Linked DNA regions of Homo sapiens. The protein of the gene in region 1 binds, or shares a complex with, the protein of each later gene. Each region holds a gene or a part of one and is shown on either strand. Other genes may lie near its edges. The genes, in order: SMARCA5 and RSF1.

What was found.
Region 2: SMARCA5 (region 1) and RSF1 share a complex: the UniProt entries of both Homo sapiens proteins name them as parts of the RSF-5 ISWI chromatin-remodeling complex.

Annotation. Positions count from the first base shown.
Region 1 is NC_000004.12:143,545,878-143,561,994, reverse strand, and holds the end of SMARCA5 (SWI/SNF-related matrix-associated actin-dependent regulator of chromatin subfamily A member 5), read right to left. Parts: intron 16,071-16,117; coding exon 15,948-16,070; intron 15,220-15,947; coding exon 15,087-15,219; intron 14,611-15,086; coding exon 14,492-14,610; intron 14,068-14,491; coding exon 13,855-14,067; intron 11,999-13,854; coding exon 11,891-11,998; intron 8,877-11,890; coding exon 8,811-8,876; 3' UTR 4,509-8,810; downstream 1-4,508. UniProt on the Homo sapiens protein: ATPase that possesses intrinsic ATP-dependent nucleosome-remodeling activity.
Region 2 is NC_000011.10:77,810,499-77,824,657, forward strand, and holds the start of RSF1 (remodeling and spacing factor 1), read right to left. Parts: upstream 10,225-14,159; 5' UTR 10,217-10,224; coding exon 10,030-10,216; intron 1-10,029. UniProt on the Homo sapiens protein: Regulatory subunit of the ATP-dependent RSF-1 and RSF-5 ISWI chromatin-remodeling complexes, which form ordered nucleosome arrays on chromatin and facilitate access to DNA during DNA-templated processes such as DNA replication, transcription, and repair.

The DNA.
Region 1 (16,117 bases):
GCCTGCATGGAACAGCAACTGAGGTTACAAATAATACTCCCCTGTTTTCAATCTTTCGATGGCTTTCTATCACAAACTATTTTGTGGACTTAGGGAAAAATCAAAACATATTTCTTGTCTACAAGACTGTAAAAGCTCTATTTACATGATGTGGCCCTAACTAAGTCTCCATTATTATTTACCACCTCTCTCTCCCTCCCCCACTACACTCCAGCCATGGTGTCTTACTGCTGTTCTTCAAACATAACAAGCACTTTCCCATCACAGGGCTTTTGCACTTGCGGTTCCCCCACTCCTCCTAAAGATCTTCACACAGATGTTTGATGGTTAACTCTCTTACATTATTCAGTTTTTCATCCAAATGTCATTTCCCCGGAAACAACTTTGCTGACCACCTTAAGGCAACAACCCAACATCAGTATCTGCTTACTCTGTGTTGTTTGTCTTCACAGCAGTAACGACTTTCTGGATTTTTATATGTGTTTGTTTATGCATATGTGTTAGCATATAAACTCCATGAAGGCTGAGGTTTTGTCAGTTCTCTTTATTGTTTTATCTGTGGTACCTAGAATGGTGCCTGATACAGAAAGGTTCTATATAAATGTATGTTAAATGAAGGATTTGACCAAGGAGTATCATCAAATTTCCTGTTGCCTGAGCCAGTAGCTGACTTCTCTGTTGCCCCTTGCTTTCAAGCAGCTGGTTGAGTAATTGTATTATACACATTGGGTGGCCAACTGCCATTCTGAGACCTAATTTTCTAGTTCTAAAGAAACTATAAAATTGATCTGAAGAAACTACTAGAGCCAACAATAATTCAGGAATTCATCCCACCATCTGAGCACTAATTTCTTGACTTTCCTCTGAAGATAGGTGCTAGACCTTTGGCAAACAATGGCAGCAAATGACAGGAAAAGTCAAGTTAAGACCTATTTTGCCTTAGCACTGCTATATTCCTATGGTCACAAGTGTTTCATAGTATAATCACATCCTCTTGTTTAAGTGGCATAGGCTTAGGATTGTTATTTTTCTTTAGCATACACATAAACAGGGGCCAAAATTGAACTCAACTGCTGTATATTGGCTACATCAAATATTGCAGTAAGAATCTGGACTTTGGGGTTTGAATGGACAAATCTATATTATAATTTTCCTCTGATATTTTACAAATAAACTTTTCCATCAAGGAGTCTACACACACTGGTTCTACATTTTCTTTACCATCAGATCCTGTTTTGAACACTACCATGCCACTGAAGAAAACTGTTCTCTCCAAGGTCAATCTGCACTGACCTGTATCAGTCATTAAATCCAATGCCTCCTTCCAAATTTTCCACAGCAGCTTTCAAAACCTGTGACATTCTGGGTCTCCTCCCATAACTGACTCCCACTTTACAGGCAGTAAAATGTAGAAGACAATGCATGGACAATAAAGTTATACCATTCTGGATCAAGCAAATCTGTTCCAGTTTTGAATTCTCACTCAACCACCTATTGGCTACACAACTTTAAACTAGTGGGTTCACAAACCCCTAAGCTTTACTTTCCTAACCTATATAATGGAAGCAATCATATCCACCAAATGTTGTGGTTATGAAAACTAAATAATAATATTGTCTTTTGGCACACGGTTAGACATTAAATGAATGTAAGTTTTCATCTTTCTTTTGTATCCTCTATCACTTCCTTGACTATTTTGTCTTCTTTCAACAAAGTCTCTCCTGTTATTTTCATTTATTCCATTAACTATCAGTTTTTGAAGGGCTCATGTAAATATTCAGCTCCACACTTATTGAAAATTTCTTAATTACTTACAAAATTTGTAAGTCACTGATATGTGACTTACCTAATGTAATTACCCTAATGTAATGCCCCACGGGGTGGGACAGGAAGGTGGGTGTCTGCGGTGGAAGCAGGATGGTACCCACGTGGAGGTGTCGGCCATGTCGAGGATGCTCCCTGGTGGCAGGGTGGAGGAGATGAGCATGTTGCCGATGGTGATAGTGATGCGGAGGCGGGAGGGCAGGGGCCCCACCTGGAACAGGCTACTGATGTCGGTGTCAAAGGGGAGGTAGATCCCTCATGCTCTAGCGCGTCGACCCCATTCACCCACACGATGGCATAGGAGTGGGCACTGACAATCCTCAGTACCACTCTTGTGTGCAGGTCCTGGGTCCATTGCTCCAGGAAGGTCACCTCCCGTTCGTACCACATCTGGTCTACAAAATGCCGCAGCCGCCAGTCCTGGCCAACGTCGTTGAAGCTGGAGGGAACCGGTATGTCCATGGTGGAGCCCGACTCTCGCAGCAGACGCCGATACCACTACTCCTAGAAGCCAAGGCACAGTTTGTCGAAGAAGTCGGCGCGGAAGCTCCAGAGGCGGTCCAGCTTCTTCCGCTCCCGCGACGGCCTCTCTCTTGGGTACAGCATCCCGCCCTGCAGCGCCAGCGCGCAGCCCCACAACAACGGCCCGAGCGCCTACCAGGCGTCCGCCGCCCCCCGGACCATGCTTTCCGCTCCTCTGCTGGGCCGCCGTCTGCGGGCCTATCAGCAGCGCGGGAGGAGCCCTGCGGACTGGTCGCGCGCGACGTGACGCGCCAGTCGCGCAGAGGGAAAGTATTTTTTTAAAACCAAGAGATTTGAACTGACGAACAATTACAAATACCCAAAGTGATGATTTGTCCCCCTGTGTTTAAAAGTCTTGGTGCTAGACAATCAAGGATGTTTCCAACATGTACGTAGAAGACTCTGACCTTCTAGCACCACTGTTCGGGTGTTAAACCCGGCCTAGTCCTACGTGACTGCCTGCGCCTTTCTGTATTCTAGTCTTTCACTCCCAGCTGCAGCTGGTAGCCGGCAGCGTTTGACCTGCAGTGGGCAGCTCACCTTTGTTCCTAACACTGCCATCTCGCGGATGGGGTCTGCAGCCGCCAATCAGAGCGTCAAGGTGAGCCTGGGGAGACCTCTACAGGTGCCTGTGGTTTCATTGTAACTACCTAAACTATTCATTCTCTTATCAAGCACCCACCCAGTTCCAGTACTGTCCAGTTACAATAAGGAGCCCAATGATAATTTTTTTTAAAGATTAGTTCCTGCTGTGAAGAAACTAAACTCAGCGTACTCTTGAAGGAGCTCCCTCTAACTTATCTTACGACTATTAAGGGTGAGAAAAAAGCACTGTGGCGTCTGCAGCATTTAGATTGGTAGGAGTATTCTGCAAGACTTGTGCCATTACTTTTATCAAGTTGGCTCCCAGGGAAAGAGGTGGCTGGGGAGGAGGGGGAGCGCAAAAAATAGGAGGCTGGGGGAAAGCCAATACCCAGAGAAAAGACCTTTCTACAACTGGAAAGCATACTAAGAAAGCAAACCTATCCATCTACTGGGATTAAAGGGCATATAAAATGAAAAAAAAAAAAGTTACTCCTTGCAAAGCTAGGATGACCAGATGGCCCCTTGCCACCTCCCAGAAGGGAATCTGAAAGTCAGCTAATCACCAGCCTGTTTGTGAGGAAGAGCCAGTAAGAACTCCGCCTTTGCACAGCAAATCTGTATCATCTATTCTTCTTTTTCCCTCCACTCAGGATCCCTACACCCAGCCAGCATGGGCATCAAGGAAAGCAGGCTGGTAAACTTCAGGGCAGAGATCCGCTTCTGAAGGCAGCTAGTAATGTCTCACCCAGCTAAGCCTTGCTACTAGGCAACAGCACTGCCTCACTCAAGAAATTATCAATCTGCATCAGGCCAGATGCAGTGGCTCACACCTGTAATCTCAACATTTGGGAGGCGGAGGCAGGCAGATCATTTGAGGCCAGGAGTTCGAGACCAGCCTGGCCAATATGGTGAAACCCTGTCTCTACTAAAAATACAGTAATTAGCCAGGTGTGGTGCATGCCTGTAGTCCCAGCTATCCGGAAGGCTGAGCCAGGAGAATTGCTTGAACCTGGGTGGCAGAGGTTGCAGTGAGCCTAGATCGCACCACTGCACTCCAACCTGGGTGACAGAGCAAGACTCTGTCTCAAAAGTCACTAGTGTGCATGAGACACAGAAGCTTTGACAAAAATTCAAACAGCCATGGAGAAATACCGATGGTCTACAGAAGCAGTGCTTAGTCCTTGCTAGAATTCTCTAGTTTTGAAACATGGGAATAAGTAGAACTGCCAATGTGTCTGATGAGTAACTGTGGTATTTATTGCAACTGAGCTCTAGAAAGAGGCTACTGTTGTCTATGATCTGTCCTTTCCCCAACCACCCAGGCATCTCTTTGTCCACTCCAGTGATGTCTGCAGACCACCCTAATGTCACCTCAAGAGGGGTGAACCAACCTTCCACTGGCCAGCATAATAGCCTTGGAGTTTCATCTCAGATTTCATAGTGAATTCGGCTTTCAGGGCAGGATTTAGTTTGGGATGAAAAAGTGTTTCCATTAAGTATTGTATTTGAATCCTGGGTTCTTCAATGATTGAGGAAGACTAATAAAGAAAAGTTTACAAATAATCACATGAACTAAATTAGGACTTCAAAAGTTTAATGAAGTGAAATAATCTCTACTTATCTCTATTTCTTTTCCCAATTTATTCACAATCTATATACATAAAAACTCCTTTGGGTTGTCTACATCAAAAACAAGAATTTCTGTAGTAAGCAAACTATATGCATATTCTTTGTATTAATAAAATATTTTTGTCAATGTAGTGTTTACATTGTTTATATTACAAAGTTTCCAACATTAACTAAATTCTGATAAACTTTCTTCTTGTACTGGAGATACATGATATGCAACATTAAATATTGGTGTCCTAGAGATAAGAGCCACACACCTTGTATGCTGTAGAGTTAAAGGCAAGTACCTAGATCCTCAATCTTCTCATAGCCTCATTACCCCCCAAAAAAGCTGTCATTAGAGCTAGGGAATCTCTCCGGACACAAGGGAATCTGTGGTAACAAAGAATGTAGACCCATGTTGCCAGTCTTGAGTATCTCAGGTGAGGTGCCAGTCCACTTCTGAAACAATGCTTTGCCTCTTATGCCTGTGGAGAAACTATTCCACTTCTTCATTTTTTTCATTTAGAATCATATCATTTCAGTCTTTTTCTTCTTACTTCAATTTTGGTTCTTGTAGCATAGTCTTTTCTGGTAACTACTGTAAAGTTAATGCTGCAAAAGCCTATTTAATCATTCTAATAAAAACCTTAACAGATCCAAAACGATTCTGGGATGTACACAGCGAAGTTAATTCTGCAGCACTGCTCCACACCAAGAATGTATTTTGCCCATTATCTGTCATCTGAGGGATGCCCTCACCTTTGATCTTGACATCAGATTCCAACAGGCAAAGATACATTTTGGTAACAGCTATGTACATATACAAAATATGTATATATTTTGGTAACAGCTACTCCGTTAATACATGTCTTCTAGCATTCCATTCATTTGGATTTATGAGTTCATCAATCCACCTTGTGTCATTAATCTACTTTGTTTAAATTACCCTCCTTAGTACCCATTTTTTTAGCAATGTTCTACTCCAAAACTACTGGTTTGAAATATAGTAGCACATCCTTTCAAAAAGATTTGTTTTTTAGATTCAAAGGGATAGAACAAGATGAAATTTATTTTTTACTCAGAATTTTTCTGAAAAACCACAGGGGTGTTTTACAATGCTTTTTAAGATCGAGATTAAGAAAGGTACTAAGCCAAAGATCATTTATATAATCATTTATATAATTAAATCCAGATTAGTTCAAACAATCGGCATATATTAAATACTCAAAGGGCAGATGGAGCAATCCTTATCTGAAATGCCTGGAACCAGAAGTGTTTTTAGCATTTTCCAGACTTTAGAATACTTGCATTATACTTATCAGTTCAGCATCCCTAATCCAAAAATCAGAAATGCCCTAATGAGCATTCAAATTATGGAGCATTTCTGATTTTAGATTTTTTGATTAGGGATGCTCAACTTGTACTCTATGCTTAGGATTTGCTTCTCTCAACTTTATGAAAAACAAAATGTAGGCCAGGTGTGGTGTAGGCTCACAACTATGATCCCAGCACTTTGGAATGTAGGCTTACACATGTAATCCCAGCACTTTGAGAGGTTGACGCAAGAGGATTGCCTGAAGTCGGCGTTTGAGACCGGACTGGGCAACATAGCAAGGCCCTATCTCTACAAAAACTAAAAAAACTTAGCTGGGCGTGGTATCTGTAGTCCTAGCTACTTGGGAAGCTGAGGTGGGAGGATCACTTGAGCCCTGAAGTTTGAGGTTGCAGTGAGCTGTGATTGCACCACTGCACTCCAGCCTGGGTGACAGAGCAAGACCCTGTCTCTTAAAAGTAGTAATAATTACACTTTATAATAGCCTCCAGCACTTTGTCAGATGTACAATTAAGCAATCTTTCATGCTTTGTTGTTAAAAAAAAAAAAAGACATTTATTCAGTATCATGATCAGATTATTAAAACATTTAGCAATCAACAGCATGGGTACAAAACAAAACAATCTACACTGAAACCCTGTGTTGGAATGCTTTACTTTCCACAGAACAGAAACTATTATACAATTAGTCACAAATACAGTCATCAAGTTCTGTGATCGTGGTGGCTTTGGTGGCAGCCATGGTGGTGGTGATGGATATGGTGGCAGTGGGGATTGCTATAATAGATTTGGTAATGATTGAAGCAATTTTGGAGGTGGTAAAAGCTACAATGATTTTGGCAATGACAACAATCAGTCTTCAAATTTTGGACCCATGAAGGGAGGAAACTTTGGAGGCAGAAGCTCTGGGCCCTATGGTGGTAGAGGCCAATACTTTGCCAAACCACGATACCAAGGTGGCTAAGGCAGTTCCAGTAGCAGTAGTGGTTAAGGCAGTTCCAGTAGCAGTAGTAGCTGTGGCACTGACAGAAGATTTTAATTACTGCCAGGAAACAAAAGCTTAGCGGGAGAGGAAAGCCAGAGAAGTGACAGGGAAGTGACAGGTTAAAACAGATTTGTGAACTTGGCCAAACACAGTGGTGGCAGGGCCTAGCTGGTTCATGCTTTTTTTTCAAGTGAGTTTCCCTTCACACAGTTTCCATTTGAGTCCCTAAGCTCTCAGGGCTACCACTATACTTGATTCATTTTGCATTTCCACTGTGTATCTCCCTCCCAGTTTCTCCTCCTCTTGAAAACATCACTTTTGTGACCTCCGTAAGTTTTCTTCAGCCTTACATTTTTTCAATTTCTTCCAAACTGAGGTGATAACTCTTACAAATTCTTTTTCCTTTCATAAGTAACCATTCCTCATGCATGTATTAGACCTTTAACTGTTAAGAATCTAACATAGTATTTAAAAAGTTAATTTTGAGGTAGCACTAAATTCAAATTACTTTACAATTTGCCATAAATACTGCGTTTTGCTTGACATTAACAGCAGCAATTCCACATTTCAAGAAATTAAGCAGTATTAGTAATACTGCAGGTATCAAAATTTTTTTTTTAAATCTTCAATTACATGTGGGCAGATGAAAACAACTACTAATAGAAATTTAAGGGAAAGATATCCAATTAAGGGAAATGTGTCCTAAAGGAAAAAGTGAATAAAAATTGAGAAAACAATTAAAGAAATGGAAAGAAAAGACCACTTTACGGATTATAAAAGTTATATTTATTCACGATGCTACATTTATTGCATTCCCTTAGAAAAATGGAGAACTGTTTATGTACCCAATCTGCACATATAAAATTTTATACAAATTATGTGTAGCACATAAAGGCCTCTGGTACAGCTAAAATCCTGACACTATAATTTGGGTATTCCTGCTTTAGGGTCTCCAGTTTATCAGGTCTGTCCATAGAAAACAGAAACTGGAATTATAGTCAGTCTTGCTAACACTTAGAAACTACTTTAAAATACAATAAAATTTTCATTTACCCTAAAAGTCCAAATGGGAGGGGATATATTTTGTTACCAATTTCAATGTAACAGTATGACAAATTCACACCTCATTTTGGCTGGGCTTTCAAAATTAAAAAAAAAAAATCACCTTAGTTCTGACATTATCTAAGTTGTGGCTGCTTCAGAAGGTCATATGACAAAATATTTACCAAATAATTAAAAATAATAATAATAATATTCCTTTTACAAAATGGTACAGTAATACCTTAAGGAACCGGAAAATACTAAATGTCTTTGGCTATACAACTAAAAGGCCATTCTTTCAAAAGAATAGGGCATATTCATTTCAGAATCAACTAAAAAAAACAGAAAGCATAACAGAAATATGCATAGAATTTAAGTATACTTTGTCTTGCCTTCTTTTCCCATTCTACCCACATAAGCAAGGAGAATGCAATTTATATAATCTTTCCAGATGAGACTCAATAGCACTACAAAGAAAATACCCAAATTTCTGCAAAGGCAAAGTGAATTAAAATAATTACACAACTAGGTGAAGACTGAAAGGGACAAATGTTATTTGCAATTTTCTTTTTAACTTGTTTTTAAGCCTTACAAGTGTAGAAATTATAGCTAATAAACAAAAAGTCACAATCTTCACAAATGGAACTACAATAGAAAAATAAATCAAATGAAACACTTAGTAATAAATGAAGCCTATTTTATTACTTCAAGTGTTAATGATAAAAAAATTTCAGCACAGCTGTTGCATTTAAAAAAGTGAAACTACATACTATGTTTCTAGCTCAGTAAACAGATGAACCTGATGTCTTTAAATGACATAACAATTGAGCATTGTACAGTACATCTTATGAAGACCCGTAAATTAAAGAACTACTGGTTTAAAGTTAGTGATTATGAAACAAAAACATATTCATAGTTTCAGCTTCTTTTTTCTTCCTCGACCATCAGGTGCGCCATCCATTTTACGTTTCTGTGTCTACAAACAGACAGAAGGATTACTTTTCACAAGACTAATATAAACATGAAATATAGTTGCAGACACATTATAACACTTTAGTAATAACAACTACTACAAAGTAATAGGTATGAGACTTTTCCCCCAGGCTATATAAATCTTTCAAAGCAAACTATAAAGCCTCCAAATAATCTTACCTACTTATTTTACTTACAGAATAAAAAATGTTAATGTTAATAATGACGTTATAAAACTAATGCACAATTAACAGTAGTAGATCAATATCAAATAAATGCAAGCTTCCCAAAATAGTAAGAAACACTTGAGTTTTTAAAAGGCAGTTACATAAGTACCAAATATTATCCAGAGATACTCATTTATTCATGACTTTATAAATTAACCATTTTTTATTAAATTAACTATTATTAAATAACATTTTTTCCCTTTAAGTGTTTGCCTTCACATTGCTAAAACATCACTGAAATAATCAAAGCTTAGAGACTAACAGTAAAAGTCATAATACCACTGCTTTTCCAATGTTTCTTAAATTATTCTAAAATTATAACTTGTATTCTCAATGAGATGTGTACACACTTGACATTTACGAGACATACTTTCCTGATTTTCACGAAGCCCCATATTAAGGACTACCATATCATCAAGAAGTGATTTTTCCCACACAACCCAGTCAAGCTAAATTTGTACTTTTTAAGTATTTCAAGGAAGTCCTAGCTACAGCAATCAGACGAGAGAAAGAAAGAAAGGACATCTAAATCGGAAACAAAGAAGTCAAATTGCCCTATTTGTAAATGACATAATCTTACATTTGGAAAAACCTAAAGACTCCATCAAAAAACTATTAGAACTCATAAACAAATTCAGTGACACTGCAGGATACAAAATCAACATACAACAAACAGTAGCATTTCTATGCCAACAGTGAAGAATGTGAAAAATAAAAAGTAATCCCATTTACAGTAATTACACGTGAAATAAAATACCCAGGAATTAATCAAAGAAGCGAAAGATCTCTAAGATAAACTATAAAACACTGATGTAAGAAACTGAAGACACAAAAAAATAGATATTCCATGTTCATGGATTAGCAAATTCAATATTGTTAAAATGTCCATACTACCCAAAGCAATCCACAGATTCAATGCAATCCTTATCAAAATACCCATGACATTCTTCACTGAAATAGAAAAAAAAATACTAAAATTTATATGGACCCACAGAACACCCAGAAATAGCCAAAGCCACCCTAAGCAAAAAGAATAAAACTGGAAGAATCACATTACCTGACTTAACTTATAGTACCGAGCTATAGTAACCAAAACAGCATGGTGCTGGTATAGAAACAGATACATAGATCAGTGCAACAGTGGAAAAGAACAGAGAACCCAGAGATAAGTCCGTAAAGTCCATACATCTACATGGAACTCATTTTTGACAAAGCTACCAAGAACATACACTGGAGAAAGGACAGTCTCTTCAATAAATGGTAATGGGAAAATTGGATATCCATACACAGAAGAATGAAACTTGACCTGTATCCCTAACTATATAAAAAAATCAAATCAAAATGTATTAAAGACTTTAAGTCCTCAAACTGTGAAACTACAAGAAAACATTGGGAAAACTCTCCAGAACACTGGACTGGGCAAAGATTTCTTGAATAATACCCCACAGGCAACCAAAGCAAAAATGGACAAATGGGATCACATTAAGTTAAAAAGCTTCTGCACAGCAGAGGAAACAGCAAAGTGAAGAGACATCCCACAGAATGGAAGAAAATATTTGCAAACTACCCATTTGTCAAAGGATTAATAAATAACCAGAATATGTAAGAGCTCAAACAACTCTACTGAAAAAAATCCTAACAGTCCGATTTAAAAATAGGCAAAAGATCTGAACAGATGATTCTCAAAGGAAGACATACAAATGGCAAACAAGCATATTAAAAGCTGTTCAGTATCACTGATCATCAGAGAAATGCAATCAAAACTACAATGAGATAACATCTCATCCCAGATAAAATGGCTTTTATCCAAAAGTCAGGCAATAACAAATCCTGACAAGAATGTGGAGAAAAGGAAACCCTCATACACTTTTGGTGGGAACGCAAATTAGTACAATCACTGTGGAAGCAGTTTGAAGGTTCCTCAAAAAACTACAGATAAGAGTTACCCTACTCCTAGGTTTACACCCAAAAGAAAGTCAGTATATCAAAGAGATATGTGCACTCCCATGTTTACTGCAGCACTATTCACAGTAGCCATGATTTGGAAGCAACCTAAGTGTCCATCAACAGATAAATGGATAAAGAAAACATGGTATGTATACACAATAGAATACTATTCAACCATAAGCAATGAGACCCTGTAATTTGCAGCAACATGGATGGAACTGGAGTTTATTAAGTGAAATAAGCCAGACACAGAAAGACAAACTTGGCATGTTCTCACTTATTTGTGGGAGCTAAAAACTACAATTAAACTCATGGAGACAGAGAGAAGGATGGATACCAGAGGCTGAGAAAGGCAGTGGGGGTGGGGGAAAGTGGGGCTGGCTAATGGATACAAATAAATACAAAGAGAGACTAAGACCCAGTATTTGATAGCCCAACACAGTGACTACCGCAATAAATAATTTAATTATACATTTTAAAATAACTAAGAGTTAAACTGTTTGTAACAGGGATAAATGCTGGAGGTGATAAATACCCCATTTACCCTGATGTCCTTATTACTTATTGCATGCCTGTATCAAAGTATCTCATGTAACCTATAAATACATACTTACTCATAACAACTAAAAATTAAAAATTATACCACTACCTAAATTTGAAAGTGGAAGAATCTCAAATTATGAGCTTGGGTTCTCCCTTAAGGAAAAAAAAAAAAAAAAAAAAGTAAAGGCAATGGAGGGGTGCACAACAGGGACTAACACATCAATGACAGCCAAGCAGTGTTAAATACTTAGAAAGGGGAAATTTACATAATCCACATATTTACATATTCATGAATACTTACTGAAGGCTTTGGTCCTCGTTTCTTTTTCTCTGCCTTCTCCTTTTCTTCTAGTTCCATGTTTTCTCTTTCAATCAAAGTAATTAAGGTATTACATCTCCTCTGGAGCTCCTAAATTATAAACAAACATGGTACACGCACTTTCCATCCACAAGTTTCATGATTTCAATTTTAAAACAAGGTATGTTTTAATAGGATAATATATAAAACCACTAATACACCCCTGATTTAAAAAAAAAACAACTGATTTTCATATACAATTCATGCTATGAAGATTAAAGGCAAGATATTTGTAAATAATGTTTTTACTCCAATCTTTAAAGCCAAACTACTGTGTATTCTTCAAAAATTCTTCCTTCACTTAGGAATTAAAGCAATAAAAATGAACATATGCAATACTGCTACTTAGTGTGTATGTCTGAGAACTACTGTGCTACTTATATCCAAAACTTAAAAAGATTAATAGTGCACATATGTGAGGGTCAAAAACAACAAGAACTTTAACAGGTGTGTATAATCTTTCCCTTCAAAGTATCACTAGAATTATGGTAGTCAATCAATCACATGGCACCTTTCCCAATTTTGGAAAACCAGCCATGGAAGTCTACGATGAGTTCTACCTCATCTCTCTCTGGCAAACTGGACATACAGCCTCCAGAAAAGATTTAAAGTATAACATAGAAGTAGCAGTTAACCCTGAAAGAAACAGAAGTCCATCTGCACGGACGGCTGCTGGGTAGCAGCCCCCTTTCTTATAGAGCAAAATTATTTTTTTCTTATAGTAAGTGATACTACTACACACACAACTACAGTAAAATAATTTTAAAATACTACTGTATAGAATACACCACACAAGACTTAGAAATAGTATATAGAGATAGAAGAATACATTATCATTTTTTGTGCATCTTAACATGGAACATGTTAAGAAGTAACACAGTTTTAAATTACGGTACTGTACTAGTTAAATTAACATGGCACTGTCTTGTTACAATCACTATAAAATTATTCTTTATTAACTCTATAAATTGTTCCCACTTAAGAAGAAATAAGCTTTCAGCAACTGGATCTTTTCTCTAATTATATATTTATACAGTGTTTTATCTTCAAAGTATCTTCATGTATTTAAGTTTAGTACATTTCCCAAACTTGGGTATCACAAACAGTGATGTCTAGTGAAAAAAAATTTTCAGTGGTCAAACATGAAAATACTGCTTACTATCCACTGTCTTACAAAGTGACATTTTACTTTAAATATACAGAGAAATCTTACTATAAACAAACACAAAGATGTTTAAACTTTGCTTATCCCAGAATATCCCAAACTTAAGACTAAAGAACTTATTAGCATTATCCTCATCTGGCAGAAAACAAGTTGAAGCTCAAAGTTCAATGGTGGTGAAATAAGGAAGAAAAGGAGCAATCCATCAAAGTTAAACTTTTCTGAATTCAAATTTTAGGTTATTAGAAATGGGGCTATTTGGTCAGAAACTGTTAGTCAGATATTGGGAATAAAAACAAAACCTAGCACTAAATCAGTGCAAAAGTAGTGTTTCACTATAATAAGCCATCTTAAAATAATCCAGACTCTGGATGATTTATATTAAATAAATCAGAATGCTGATTCTGATGTGCAGATGCTTGAATGCAAGGACCATTTTTCTTTATAGAAATATGTTCATTTGAAAAACCAAAAAGTCGTAACACTCAGAAGTTGAAACTGATACTTCCTCCCACTTAGAACTTGAAAAGCTAGTCTTATCATATAGTGATATTTAAAGACGTAAGATACTAAAGGATAGGACCAATAAACTTGTAAGCTATCCCTGGTATTAGGTTTTATGATACTAACAATATTGTAACAAAAGTCTACTTCATAGATTTTTTTAAAGTCACCTTAAAGAATACCAAAGATGACACTTACTCTGAACTCTGCTACATTACACAAAAAAGCCCTGAGCACTCACCATTGCAGTTCTGGACTTAAGAAACCAGTCAAATCTGAACTGAGGAGAGTTGCGAATACACTGTCGCAATTCATCATAAACATTTTCTTTGTCAAATCCAAGTTTGTGAAGCATACAAATCAGAAAACGATCTTCTTCTTCAGTATAGTTTTTTCCTTTGTTAGTACCATATGATATTCTCAGCTGATGAAAAGGTGCTTTGTACCGTCCAATCTATGAAAGTCAGATTTTATATTATATAAAATACAAATCCTATATAATCTGTATTTCAAACTCAGCTTTAGTATAATTAGCTAAAATGTTGCATTTCAAATCAGAATTTTCTATCTAGAGCACTTCAATTGCTTTATATAATCTTTGTCCCGAAAGACCTTTATAGTCTTTATTATTATAAAGAGAAATACAGACTAAGACTTCCTGATTCTACTTAGTAAAAAGCTAATCTTAGTGTCTTTGACTCAGATCTATCAGTCTAGTGTATAGGTAAATTCTGCTGACAATACCATGTTTGAATGCTACTCTGAAGAAATTTTAAATTGTAAACCCTTACTTCTTTTCCTTTATAAAAAGTCACTCTCTCATACTCACAGCTAGGAGTTATTTTATTAACTACCTAACTTATTAACAAGCAAATTACCTTTGTGTCAAGTGCTTTCTTGATGCTTATTCTTCTTTGAATTCTCGCCTCTCCCCTTTCAATCTGAGCCATAATCTTCTCTATGTCCTGGAGCTCGTTGCACCTTTCCCAAAACACAGCTGTAAAAGTTGGACAAAGTAAACAAATCATTTATATTTTTATTTCTTTAATGTAAAAAAAATGGGATCAACTGGATTATTTATCTTCTAATTCTTAAATTTCTGCTATTCTAAGCAGACTCACCACAGCATACCCTCACATGTTAACCTAATAATACAACTGACTTCAGGAAACACAACACATAATACTTGAAGTTATGCAGAGAAATTAAGATAAAAATGCAAGGGCAATTATCCAGTGACTTATTCTGATTTTCTTTGCTGTCGCTAGAGTTAGCTAGGGTTAAAAAATTTTTAAAAAGGAAACCATTACGCCATTTCTGGAAACAGAACATTTTCTAATTTGTAAAAAATAATGAAGAAGGTACTAACTACACTGTGACAAAATTAGCTAATCACAACATAATTCAGAATAAGAAAACAAGAACCTTCCAACAGCTCTTACTAAACTCCAACAGCCTGCTTAAAAGAATTACCTGAATATTCAATGACTTCTTCTGGAGTTTTGCCTTCTACTTCTCTTGCTATATTTTCAATATCATCACGACCCCACTTCTCATTAGCTTTGATAAACTGGTTAAAATCTCTCTTATTCCAATTGGTAAATCCCTTCACAGGAACAGAAACAAAATATTTAATCACAGCACATTAAACTTGGAAAACATGCTATTAGCAAACCTTCTAAATATTACAAAAACAAATTTTCACTAGTTTATTAAGTTCTTTTAGAGTGGTAACTTTTCGTGTACATAAATATACACTTTTGACAACACATTATATATTGCTCAAATACCCAAGCAATTAAATATGAGTGGCTGAGAGTAAGGAATACTGTATGAAAAGGTGACAGTTTCACTGAGCTTTGAAGGATTACTAGCAGTTGGCCAGAAAGAGTGAATAACATAAAGGGCAAAAATATGAGCAAGTAGAAAAATGGAAGGAAAATGAAGCTTTAAAGGTAAGTCAAAGGCCAGATTCTGAAAGACCTTGATGAACACCAAAGGATGTTTAAAAAATAACCAAGCCAAGATTTATAGTTGAAAATGGTGACTGGGTAGCAATGTGGAAAATTCATAGGAAAGACGGGAACATTCAAAGTAAGGTGATAAAAAAGATACCCACTCTACCGAGCCAGAGTAATAAAATCTGTAGTCTTCTCAACTACCTCAACTAGTGACAATCAGATGGAGCATTTATCCACATGCCCATACTTTATTGTCTCCAATTATTCCATCTTTAAAAGCAGAAACTTGTATTTATTTTTATGCCCCAACATAACCTAACACAGTCCTTTACAACAAACTGTTACTAAAGTTTGTACTGATTAAAGGCTATACCTGTGTTAGAAGCTTCTCTTTTTCCTCTAACTCTTCATCATTAAGGGATTCAGCTTCATCAATTTTAAGCTGTTCTTCTTTTTGTGCCTGTGCTGCATTAGGCAGCTCAGGATTTCGAGGTACCTAAAAGATATTTTTCTATGCCATCAAATCAGTAAATTTTAAAGAGC
Region 2 (14,159 bases), on another chromosome or scaffold:
AAGTTTCATTCACAGGACATTCTAGGCATTTAATTTGTATTATATTGGTTCCTTTTTATTTTTATTTTTTGGGGGGGAGATGGGTGGAGTCTCCCTCTGTTGCCCAGATTGGAGTGCAATGGCATAATCATGGCTCACTGTAATCTCTGCCTCCTGGGTTCAAGCAATTGTTGTGTGGCAGCCTCCTAGGTAGCTGGGATTACAGGTGTATCCCACCACATCCAACTAATTTGTATTTTTAATAGAGACCAGGTTTCACCATGTTGGCGAGGCTGGAAATTTGTATTATACTGGTTCTAAATGTATTTTCAAAAACAGAGATCATCATCTGATAAGACTTCCATCTTCATACACTGGAATAAAGATCAGTAAATTTTTTTCTGTAAAGGGCTAGACAGATAATAAGTTCTTCAGGTTTTGGGTTTTGTTTTTTTCTGAGACAGGGTCTTGCTGTTTCACCCAGGCTGGAGTGCAGTGGCATGATCAGCCTCAACCTCTGGGACTCAGACAATCCTCCGAAAGTGCTTGGATTGCAGTATGAGCCACCATACCCAGCCCAATACTTTAGGTTTTGAAGTTATATGTTCTCTGTGACCATCACTCAACTCTGCCACAGTTGTGTGAAAGCAGCTACAGACAACAGAATGTAAACAAATGAACATGGCTGTATACCAGTAAAACCTTATTTACAAAGATAGAGAGGACAGGCTGTAGATTGCCCACCACTGTACTAAGCTATCACAGACTAGGCTTTAACTTCAAAGTTTTAGAGCAGAACATGGTCCTATAGTAAGTTGAGGAAAACTATTAATTCCACAAACATTTACTACATATTTGCTATTACCCACCAATTGCTGGTGATAAAATAAAGTAAGAAACCCTGTCCTCAAAGAGTTTACCATCTTGTAGGCTAGGCAGTAACTGCAAAAAGTGTTATGAGTACTGTGGCATAAAATCTACAAAGTGTACGTGCAGGGTAAGGAGATTGAAGTGGTTAATTTAACTTGAGAGACAGAAAGAAGGAAATTTTCCACAGAGCATTTGATGCTTAAAGAGCAGACTAATGACGGGTACAGTGAGCAGGCAAGGGAAGGAAGATGGGGATGGTATATTCGACTCAGAGGCAGGAGGACGAAGAAAAAGCATAAATGTAAAACAACCTTTCACATCTTCAGAGATGTAAAAGCAGTTTGGCGTGATTAAAACTAGCAATGAGAACAGAAAAGCAAGGTTGAATATAAAAGGGGATAAACAGACTCAATATAACTTGGTATCAAAGAAAGTGTCAGAGGCTAAGGTCTAGGATGCCTCCTTGGTTTCTGATCTGAGTGACTTGGGTAGATGATAGTAACATTCATTTAAGAGGTAATTCAAGATTAAGAATAAATAAATAGGCTGAGCTTGGTGGCTCACGCCTGTAATCCCAGCACTTGGGGAGGCTGAGTCAGGTGGATTGCTTGAGCCCAGGAGTTTGAGACCAGCCTGGGCAACATAATGAAACTCTGTCTCTACTAAAAATACAAAAAATTTTTAGCTGGGTGTGGTGGCACATGCCTGTAGTCCCCAGCAACTTGAGAGGCTGAAATGGGAGGATCGCCTGAGTCTGGGAGGTAGAGGTTGCAGTCAGCAGAGAACAAGCCACTGCACTCCAGCCTGGGTGACAGAGTGAGACCCTGTCTATAAAAATAAGAGTACATAAATACAAGCAGAAATTCAATTTTCCTTTTAAAAAGCCTCTTTAGAAATCTAGTTTTAAATAGTTTTTTGGTGATTATCAAAGAAATGCACAATTAACATAGAAAATGAAATGTGAAAAAATATAAGAAAAACCAAAGGGAAAAAACTGTATAATCCTACTATTCAGAAAATGATTAAGATAAACATGTACAAATACTGGAGAATAAAGCTTAGAGTCTAAAATTAAATACAGACTCAACCTCCACTACGAAAGCTTTCTGGAGGAACTCTTGCTTACATGAGCCATATATACATTATATACTTCATGTTGCTCTTCAAGCAATCCTTGTTCAACTACAGGAGGCTGAAGCCTGGTCTGTCTGCTGTCAAGTTTTGCCCTCATGCTCTTCTTTCTTAAAATCAGTTTGGGCTGGATGTGGTGGCTCATGCCTGTAATCCCAGCACTTTGGGAGGCCGGGGCAGGCAGATCACTTGAGGTCAGGAGTTTTTGAGACCAGCCTGGCCAACATGGCGAAACCCCATCTCTACTAAGAATGCAAAAAAATTAGCTGGGCGTGGTGGCGGGCACCTGTAGTCCCAGCTACTCAGGAGGCTGAAGCAGGAGAATCACTTGAACCCAGGAGGCAGAGGTTGCAGTGAGCTGGGATCGCACTACTACACTCTAGCCTGGGTGACAGAGCTCCATCTCAAAAAAAAAAAAAAAAAAAAATCAGTCTGGTGTAGTTTCTGCTTGCTGTGCCCTCACAACTCATGTTCTTACACTGAAAAGATCACCTTAATTTTGGACAAACATTCTAAGCATAACTTTTAATTCTTGCTCTTTGTCCAGCCTCTAAACTGGTAAGATTAAATAAACACTGCAAATTCCCCACCACCTCATCCCTGCTTCTTCTGTTTATTAACAGAAAGGCACAAATTATGAAATAATTTGCTAAAATCAGAATATCTTACACAACTTACTTTGAGAGAAACCAAATTTATTTGATAAGTATTTTTAAATGAATATTAAAACTTACTTAATTCTGAGCAAAACATGAAAGTAGTCTAATGATGAATGGGATCAAGTCTGCCATTTATAATTTTTTTTTAACAACTGGTAATCAATTTATTAAAATAGTTGACTTAAGCATCTGCAATGGTGACTTTCACCTCAACTCCCGGCTCAAACTGATGGAAGCAATCTGCTTAACAATCTCAGAAGGACTGTGCAAGTCAATGAGTCGCTTGTGGATTCTCATCTGGAAAGGATCCCACGTCTTAGAACCTTCACCACAAGGACTTTTTCTGTAGTGATTCTCAAAGTCTTGGTAGGTATTCGAACTGGTCCTTTCACTTGGAGATTCTTTGCCTCTGCTCCTCTGATGAAGTCAGCACACACCTTTTCCAGGGATTTTATGTTGCGGCTCGTTAGAGTGATTCAATTTCGGTGAACTGCCACCTCCAGCTCCACGCGTGTTTTTCCGGTAACCTTCAAAGCCATAGCTGCTGCACGGCTTCCTGACCGACTTGTTCCTCGGCGAGAGCGAACAGTAGTGAGTAAGGAGCAGGAGCCTGCGGATCACAGAGCCGCAGCACCTACCACCGCGACTTCCTCAAAGAGCGGCCATTTATAATTTGTAAAAGGACACACACACACACACACACACACACACACACACACAGAGATAATGGAGAATTAATACAATTTAACACATCCCTAAACTCAGGATAAAAATAAGAAGTGGCTGGGCACAGTGGCTCATGCCTGCAATCCCAGCACTTTGAGAGGTGGAGGTGGCTGGATCACCTGAAGCCAGGAGTTCAAGACCAGCCTGACCAACATGGCAAAACCTGTCCCTACTAAACACATAAAAATGAGCCAGGCATGGTGGTGCATGCCTGTAATCCCAGTTACTTGGGAGCGTGAGGCAGGAGAATCACTTGAACCCAGGAGGCAGAGGTTGTAGTGAACCAGGATCGCGCCACTGCACTCCAGCCTGGGCCACAGAGCGAGACTGTCTCAAAAAAAAAAAAAGTTTTGGCCACAAGTGGTGACTCATGCCTGTAACCCCAGCACTTTGGGAGGCCGAGGTGGGAGTATCACCTGAGTCCAGGAGTTCAAGACCAGCCTGGACAATACAGCAAGACCTCATTCTCTACCAAAAAAATTTTTAAAAATTAGCTGGGCATGGTGGCATGTGCCTGTAGTTCCAACTACTCGGGAGGTTGGGGCAGGAGGATTTCTTGAGCCCAGGAATTCAAGGCCCTAACTCTGGGGGGGAAAAAAAAGGACAGAGTCTCGCTCTGTCACCCAGGCTGGAGTGCAGTGGCACCATCTTGGCTCACTGCAACCTCTGCCTCCCAGGTTCAAGCGATTCTCCTGCCTCGGTCTCCCGAGTAGCTGGGATTACAGGCGCCTGACACCAGGTCTGACTAATTTTTGTATTTTTAGTACAGATGGGGTTTCACCATGTTCGCCAGGCTGGTCTCAAACTCCTGACCTCAGGTGATCCGCCGCCTGGGCCTCCCTAAGTGCTGGGATTACAGGCATGAGCCACCGTGCCCAGCCGAAAAAATACATTTTTATAAAGTAGGCATTCACCTCAGAAATCCTTTGATAATGTTTGAAGCAATACCAGTTTAATACTGTTTAAGTCAGTTTCCTCTATTATTGTGGTTCAATTGTTTAGTGACTTGGAAACCCCCAAAATATGGTTTTTTTTTAATTTCAGTGCCTCCTTTCTTCCTAACACACTGGTGCAAACCTCATACAGAGCACACTGGAGCTAGCAGGCACTGCACTTTATGGCATACAAGTGAAAGAAAGCGTAAAATGGAAGAAGCAGCCCCTTCAAATGGCTAAAGGTGGTGTGACTTCAGACATGAGGATCAGGAAATGGAAGTAAAGGGGAAGTGGAAGAGTAAGGAGAGAATGCCTGCTGTTCTCTCTAGTTTAGGCATCAATTTGCCTGGAGGCACTGCTTGTGCCCAACAGTACAAGAGCGAGCAAAAATGTTTAAAAGTTAGCTAATGCAAACCTAACGTACAGATATGACCATATAAAGCTAAACAAATTAAAAATCAAAGCCTGCTAGAACATATGTAATTACAAAGTGTACATTATAATTGCCCATATAATTAAATGTTTTTAAAAGAAAATAGAAAATACCCTAATACCTTTTGTGGGATCTACTCTACAATAAAAACAGAAAACAAACAAAAAAAGCCAAGCATAATATATTAAGACTATACCCATCAGGTAGAGTAAAATTTTATTAAATCTAACAACACACATAACTGTCTTCCTTGAATACATGATTCAGTTTAACATGTACTTTAGGCCTGAATTATTCTTTTTCATATTGCATGTGGTCATACATCTCACCATAAAATTGTTAGATAATTTTAGTTTACAACTGTAGACTAGAATGCACGGACTATTGCTCCACTTGATAAAATCTCAGAGAAAAAAAACTAAGTCTTTGAATGATGTCATTAGTTTCAAGCTCAGTTTAGCTATTTCTTACTAGATTAGAAATTTCTTTTAAAAGGCTCATGTTTAATGTTTTTTTAAAAAAATAATCCCCACAATATTTACTGTAGCTACATCTGTACATAGCAGATGCTCAATATATATATTAAGTGAATAACCTCACTAATAAATGCTTGCTTACCTTCTTACCGGTGAGGTCTGTTTAAGAACTTAACAAAACATCTAAATTTAAGGCAAACTTCTTAATCATTAAAAGACTAAAAAGTAAGCCAGTTTGCATTAACAGGCTCATGTTAGCCAGACAAGTCCCTCTGTCTCCATTACCTCCTAGTTCCTAGGACAATGACAACAACCTCCCTCCAAACCTCCGTAACTTTACTCTATGACATATCGAAAATGGTGGAGATGAAATCTGTTTCTCTCTTTTCATCTAATAAGTGCCCTAAAGAATATTTGCTTTTTCAAAGGCAGAAGAGACACAACTAAAAAGTTTCAACCTAACCAGGCTCTGGCCCCAGCAATACTACTATTAATGTATGTATGCCCTACCAGTGTCTACCACTGTAGACTCATGCAACCTCTAGTACATGCACCTGGTAAAATCTTTTGTTTAAATCAACACATGTGGCCCCAGTTACAGTAATCACCTTTCCACTTTATCAAATGCACCTAAAAATATATTGTTACACACAGATCAGTTACAGTACCAGTAAGAGAGACCATAGTAAGTTATAGTTACAATTCCAGTTAAAAAGGCATTTTTTTAACTTTGATATTTTCACTTCGAGTTAAAATTCAAATCATTAAATGCAAAAATGAAACAAAAAACTAATGGCTCAACTTACTTAATATCATACAACTAATTCAGCCAACCATAGTATAAACTATGAGAATCCTAACACATTATCTGTATTTACCTTAATAAATTTATTAGATATATGTAACATCTCAACCAATATCCAGACTGTTTTTAAAGAATACAGTAGTATAGTTTCCTCTTGAAAAGAAATATTCTCTGCAGGAGAGGAAAGATACTTAGGAGCCTTGGGTGTCAGGGATCTCACAAAGTCAACGTCAACTTTATCCATAACCACCATCATCTACCTCCAGTTAGGAGAAACCTGGGGAAGTCCACACAAAGCACAGAATTGGGAGGACTAAAGTAGACTGCAGGGAGAGGAGGATAAAACACCACCTTCATTTGGCACATCCTTTTATAACTAGTATCAACTATAAATCTAAATTTTTTGTTGACAATTTCAGCATATATGTGGGCTTTTCAAATAAGAATTTGACTAACACCAACAGTTAGCTGTATACACTTGAAATCTCTCTCTGTAGCTTGATTTTCCTCCTGAAAAATAAAGGCAATGACACAATAGTCCCTTCTTTCTTGCCCCGAAATTCAATGATAGTTTCTAGAGCAAAGGTTCTCAAACATTCTAGCTTCACGGCACCCTCAGTATCTCAGTAATTTTCTCACAGCAGCCCTAGGCCAGAAATAATAACACTTCCACTTATTAAGTAGTCAGTAGCCATGTGAAAAAATAACCTAGCTAAATTTCAACAAATAATGTTTTTACTTCATTCTTAACCATAATTACTTGTGAAATGTGTATTACTGTTGGGCACTGCACAACTTTTCAAACCTTGGAATCAGAGTGGACCCTGCTATCCTCTTTCCTGCTGCATACTGACTTTTTTGTGAATTTTACCACAGCAACCGCTAAAAAACCAGCTTCACAAAGACATATCATCTATAGAAATGTGGCACAACCTTGAAACCATGAAGTATGTCAAGGCAGTAGCTCACCTGGCAACCAGCAAATTTCGGCTACCACTGTATCCTACTTGAAAATTTAAACTATCAGATGGAGTTGGCAACAATGCTCTAGGGTGCCTTGGTGCAGTTTGGAAACCATGATACTATGGCAAGGTATATAATTTTGTGGCTTTGGACTCAGACTTGGGTTGGAAATCATATTCTACCATTAACTATAGACTCTTAAGCACCTTAATCTATTGAGCCTTAGTTTCTATGCCTGCCAAATAGGAATAATACTATCAACTTCAGAGAACAGTTGCAAGGAACTAAATCCATGTCTTTTAACTCTTGTACACTACAACTCTTTCCCAAAAAGACTCAGTTCAAATCTTGTTGGCTGAGCCACTATCATTTTATCAGCTATTTGAAACAGGCTGAAAGTTTGTAATAGCTGATAAAACGACAGAGGTTCACCCAACAAGCCAACTTTGATGATGATATCATGGTTCATCATCAAAGTTCTGAAAATCGTTTCCCTGCACAGTAACAGCATTTCACCTGCAGAGACTTCTCATTTGCCAAGTGTTCTGAACTGTGTAACATTAATTAATAATTATTCTAAGATCACCTTATGATAGGATCTATTATTATCAGTCCCCTTAGCAACTCTATACCAACGGTAATGCAGTGGCTGAAATAAATGATCCTTCTTAGCCCAGGTTACCTGTCATTTTTACTTACTTAGTGAACCACTATTCAATTCAACTGACTCTAATATTGTATTCCTGTGATATTAATATAAACTAAATGCACTGGTCAAAATACCTAAAATAAATGTAGATTCAAGCAATCTCATATACTACCCAAAATACCACGCCATCCCAGAAAACCTATGCATTTCAACTTGGTCCAAAGAAATTACCAAAACAATTTACTAGCCATCCTTTCCCCAAATGCCCACAGTTCGTTCTCTGAGAGATACATTACTATCACTTCCCAAGGCATCCTAAAAGCAACTTACTAAGGCATCCTACTTCACAATGACTACCTTCTTAAAAATTAAAAAACGGGCCAGGCTTGGTGGCTCACGCCTGTAAAGCACTTTGGGAGGCCAAGGTGTGTGGATCACGAGGTCAGGAGTTCGAGATCAGCCTGGCAAACATGGTGAAACCCCGTCTCTACTAAAAATACAAAAATTAGCCGGGCTCGGTGGTGCACACCTGTAATCCCAGCTACTCGGGAGGCTGGGGCAGGAGAATCGCTTGAACCTGGGAGGCGGAGGTAGCAGTGAGCCCAGATCCTGCCACTGCATTCCTGCCTGGGCAACAGAGTGAGACTCCGTCTCAAAAAACAAATAAAAATAAAAAATATAAAAAAGAATGTAAATACAATTTGATAATGAAATTACTACAATGGGAGCTTAATTTTTAAACAAATTCTGTGAGAAGCCTTTATATAATGTAATTAGTCACCCTCCTATTTTGTACTATTTTTTAAATTAGCCTTTTGTAAGCCAGTTTGTTACAGGTAGAGGGAATGTGGACAGGTAAGAACAGATTACTAGGCTTATATTATAACTGCTGTATTAATTTGAGTCTTCGGTAGCCATAACATCATACAGATTCTTTATAGGTAATATTCTGAAGAACTTCATACTTGGCGCTTCCTAGCAATGCAAATAAATTCAGTTAACAGAAACTTCTTCATTTACATAGAGAATAGAAGAGCGACCCTGCTTTCTTGGAAAGGAAACAGCTATCTGTCTTGTACAATAACCAATCCACTTTGGCCAGCTAATATGGACAAAAAAAGAGACCTATTTGGAAAACGTTTCTTCTCCAGCCAAGGGCTGTTTCCAGATAAAGGCAATGCTCAGAGTATAACAAAAAAGCCTTCTCTGAGGAAAGAAAAGTGCCAGAAAAGGAGAGGCAGGGATCGGGAATAAATGGGGGTGAGTATAAGCACTCAGTGTGAAGGCTGGAGGCAGCAGGCGCAGCGCTGAGATGCTCCAGCAAAAGAACCAGCAGCAGCAGCAGGAAGTTTCAATGGGGCCGGGCAGAGCATGCGCCCTGCACCCGCGCGGTGGCCTTATGTGGAAGGAGCACCACTTGCGAACACCAATAATAGACCAGCGGCACCAGAGAGAGAAACATGAGCAACAAGCACCTTCTTCAACTGTTTCCCCCTCCGTCAGAGCCCCTCCTCCAGCTTACATACTAACCACCCCACCCTACCGTGCAAATGGGAGGGAGACGACTTCTTCGCCTAAGCCCGGCTGCCAAGATGAAGGGGGAAGGGATTGGAAAAGTGGGGAGATGCTCGCCTATTATTTTGGGGGAGGTGGGGAGAGGAAGGAGAACTATGGAGGAGGAATTAACCCTCTCCTCTCCACAGTGGAGCTGAACCGACTTCGCCCCCCTACCGAGAATGGAGAAGAACCCCCTCCCGTGGGGGAGGAGCAGACCTCCCCACTTCAAGGAAGGAGTTTTAGGGGTTAAAGCAGCCCTCGAGGGGAAGGGAAAAGGGACAAATCTCTCAGGGGAGTTCCCAACAGAGGGAGGGAGAGTTGAGTGTCCGCTGGCCCCCGCCCACCCAGGTGAAGGGAGATAAGGAGGTGTCCGGAGCAGCCGAGCCCAGCCTTCCCCGAGATGGTCGGGAAGACTGGTGGGAGGAGGGGAGGGAGTAAGGGTGGGGAGGAGGAGAAAAGCGCAAAGCTGGCCGGAACCTGCGCTCCCCTTCCCCCGCCGCCAAGGGGGAGACGGGGTGGGGGGCCGCCCTCCGCCGCGGAGAAGCAGTCCCCGGGGCTGCCGACCGGCACAATGACCCCTCCCCGCCTCCAGCCCACACCTAGCCCGCAACGCCTCCACCTCAGCTCCCCGCCCGGCCGAGTGGCCCTAGGGGGCCTCCGCCCCGCCTCCCCACTGCCCAAGACCCCGGGGGCTGGGCGGAGAAGACCAGCCCGGCGGAGTTGCGTCCCAGGGGGAAGACAGAGCCGCGGAGGCCCGAGCCGCGAAGAACCGGGGCGCCTGTGAAGAGCGGAGAGTAGCAGAGCGCCAGGGCCGCTTCCCGCCGGGCGTTCGGGCCCCTCGCTTACCTTCTCCGTTGCCGACGTCCGGCGGCGGCGCCTGCAGCACCCGCTCCAGCTCAGGGAACGGCAACTCAGGCAGGTCTAGCAGCGGCCCGTAGCGCTCCAAGAAGGAGCAGACTACGGCGAAGTTGGGGCACGAACCCGGGCAGCCCGGAGGAGCCATCACCGCCGCCGCTGCCGCCGCCGTCGCCATTTTGAACTGGAGGATGGAGGAGGAGGCGATGGGGGGGCGGGGGAAGTTGTGGTGCCGAGGGATGGCAAGGCAACCTTACAGACGACAGGAGGCGCTCTCAAGTGGGCTCCTCTGCGGATCCCAGCGTCTCAGGGACGGCTCCGCGATCCCACAATACATCGGCGGCCCGGAGCAGTCGAGAACCGAGTCAGACGGGAGACAGAGCGGCCCTCGGCGCCTTTCACTTTCCGCCCTCTTTCCGCCCCCTTCTCTCCTCCCCTTCGGGCTTGCCACTGCCTCGTGTGACAGGGGGAATGAAAACAAGGGAAGCGGGGCGGGGAGGCGGGCTGGAAGCGGGAGGGGCGGGACTTCTCGAGAACAATGGCCAATGGACGCAGAGGGGGCGGGGCCTCGGGCGCTGTTCAACTGCAGGGCGTATTCCCGGAGGGCAGTTGGGGAGCGCAGATCCCGAAGCAGCGCTGGGAGCGTAAGTGCGGGCAGAGCACTGCGCCGTTTGGGAACGCAACTTTGAGGAGACAGTGCGGTGGGTGAGTTTGCGGGGGAATCCTGAAACTGGGCCACGAGATGGTGGAGAGGTTGAGGAGAATTAATAAACAGAAAAAGGGAATAGGGCGGGGGAAAGCACAGTTGTGGGAGAAGGTTGGGAAGGGGAAAGGTAGAGGTGTGCCCTTAATTAGGGGCTGGGCTGGGACCTCGGTAAGATGTCTCTGTGGAAGTTTGCCGACGGGGTATTGCTCTCTGCTGGGGTACAGGAATCGCAGCTTTGCTGGAAAAGCAGGATCTGAGGGAACGGAACTCTGGGGGAATCGTCGGAGTGAGGAGTTGGGGCCCTGCTGGGAGAAGAGGATCTGAGGAGACCAGGCTCTGCTAGGGGGCCATGGTGTGAGGGGAAGGGGCTCTGTTCAGGGACCAGAATCGGAGTGTGGGCTGGGACTCCATTGAGAGGCGGAACATGACAGGAGACGGTGGAGCAGCGAAAAGTTTGTTAGAAGACAGGGTTCCACTTCGGGGCGGGGCGGGGGCAGTGAACATTCCCACAAAGAACGCCAGAGAGAAACTACCAATAATGTAAAATAGAATGTGCAGCCTGAGAAGCAGCAGTACACGTTATGCTTAGAAGCCTGAGCTTTGGATTCAGCCAGGCCTGAGTCCTAGCGGGGCTACTTCATGACACTGTGGAGGTTTCTTTATTTCTTTGAACTCCTTAGAGTGGGGTGATAATAGTACCTACATCATACGGTATTACTAGATAAATCACAGTAAAGTGATTAGCACAGTGCCGTAGCACATAGTGAGTACTTTAAAAATATTAGTTATCAAAAAAGGAGTTCCTATAATTTAGACTGAATTCCGCTATATTTATTTAGTCTATAATTTATTACTTTGAGAATTTTCTGAGTGCATTTAAAACTCAATGTAGTACCTAATTCCTAAAAAGAATTTGGCCGGGCGCGGTGGCTCATGCCTGTAATCCCAACACTTTGGGAAACCGAGGTGGGTGCATCACCTGAGCTCTGCAGTTCCAGACCAGCCTGGGCAACATGGTGAAACCCCGTCTCTAGTAAAAATAACGAAAATTAGCCGGGAATCCTTGGGAGGCTGATGCAGGAGAACCCCTTGAACCGGGGAGGCGAAGGTTGCAGTGAGTCGAGGTCGCGCCACTGCACTCCAGCCTGAGCGACAGAGCAAGACTCCACCTCAAAAAAAAAAAAAAAAAAAAAGAATTTGAAGCAAGGTACAACACAAACCATGTAAAAAAGAGAAATCTGTAATTATAGAAAGATAAGAAATAGATGGGCAAATAATTATATGAGTAACAGGGAAAATGGTCACACAAACACCGAATTTTTTTCTTCATTTCCAGGTTTTAAAAAGGGGAAAAACCATAAGGGTGTGTATTATTCCCATTATCTAAAGAAAGAATACTCAATTTATCAAGAGAAAAATTCTATATTGTAAGAAGAATTTATTGCCTTGAATAGTGATTCATAGTCTTGAGTGGTATACAAACCGTTTTTAAAGGAAAAAAGTTCTTTTGAAACTTGGCAAATACTTTTGAAAATTTCACTGTAAGAAATACTGATGTAAGAAATCAAAGTCTAAAGAACACTGTAAATGTACTTAATGCCACTGAAGTATACACTTAAAGTGGTTAAAATGGCATATTTTATGTTACATGTATTTTACGACAATAAAAAAGCTTTTAAGAAATTAAAATCCGCCGGGCGCTGTGGCTCACGCCTGTAATCCCAGCACTTTGGGAGGTCGAGACGGGCGGGTCACGAGGTCAGGAGATCAAGACCATCCTGGCTAACGCGGTGAAACCCGTCTCTACTAAAAATACAAAAAATTAGCCGGGCGTGGTGGCGGCGGGCCCCTGTAGACAGCTACTCGGGAGGCTGAGGCAGGAGAATGGCATGGACCCGGGAGGCGGAGCTTGCAGTGAGCCAAGGTTGTGCCACTGCACTCCAGCCTGGGCGACAGAGCAAGACTCCGTCTCAAAAAAAAAAAAAAAAAAAAGAAATTAAAATCCTACTTCAGGAAAATATCTTTATGGTTATGAATTATCACTGCCAAAGAAGTTTTAATTTAATAAGTCGGAAAATATTGTTTTTAAGCAATTACTGAAATGAAACACAAAACTAAACTAAAACATTTTTATAGAATTCCCAAACGGGCAAGTGTATATCTCTTGACCCTGGGGACCTGAAGACTCCAGTTTAAAAATAATCTGGGCGAGGTGGGGTGGCTCATGCCTGTAATCCAAGCACTCTGGGAGGCCGAGCAGGAGGACCCCTTGAGCCAAGGAGTTCGAGACCAGCCTGGGCAAGGTAGTGAGACCTCATCTGTAATCCCATGTAGTTGCCACTGCACTCCAGCCTGGGCGACAGAACTACACCCTGTCTCAAAAAAAAAAAAAAAAAAAAAGAATAATTTGACCCAGAATACAGTTTTAACAACAGTTTTGTGGAAACATACAAAGACTTTCATATACTGGTTACTTAACTGACCTTAAATAAAAGCCAGGTACAGGATATTTTAAAATAAAATTGTATCTTTGTGAAGGAATTTCTATGGAAAGAACCTTCAAACCTAAAAGGAAGATTTATTATGTGAACCTTGCCTGTACTTTCTATCTTTGCTTCTAGCTTTTGCAGCACTTCACTTCCCACATTCCAGTGAGGTTGTGAAATAACATTCTAAAAAAAAAAAAAAGCTTTATTACTATAGTTTTCTTTTCTCACTGCTCACACTGTTAGTCAAACAGACTGATAAATAAAGGTTAGAGTTTCTGCCTTTTCTAATCTAGATCGGCAGGGAAACAGAGTCCTTTGGCATCAGAAAGTTATATCCACCCAAAGATAAGAAGTGTTTTGCTACAAAGCAAGGTTTAAGCATGCCTTCCTTCACTAAAGTCTGTTCTTGAAAATAAATGACACACACCCATAATGCTATCATCACTTCTTGCTTTCCTGGGCTAAGAGAAATTGTGGAATACAGAGCTTAACGACAATTTATGTAGTTATATAAGTGAGTTATATTTATCAGACTGGAATGTAAAGGTGCAAAAAAGAGTAGCTATTTTTAAAACCTGTATTTGATTTATTGCTACTGCCATGAAGAGGCCTTTAAATAAGCATTAAGTTACACTTGGTTCAACTTTGTTTATGAATAAGAAATTTCTTAAGATATTTCAAATTTCATGTCCTATTAGGGGGAAATATTTTGCTCAATTAGAATTAACGGCTAATTTATTAAAAATACCAAAAAGTCAAAAACAACACAAATATTCATCAACAGAAAAATATAAATTGTGATATACTACTCAGAGTAATACACACTGTTGATATACACTACAGCCTGGGTGAATCTTAAAAACATGTTGAGTAAAAGAAGGCAGACACAAAAGAGTTAGGTACTGTACAATTCCATCAATATGAAG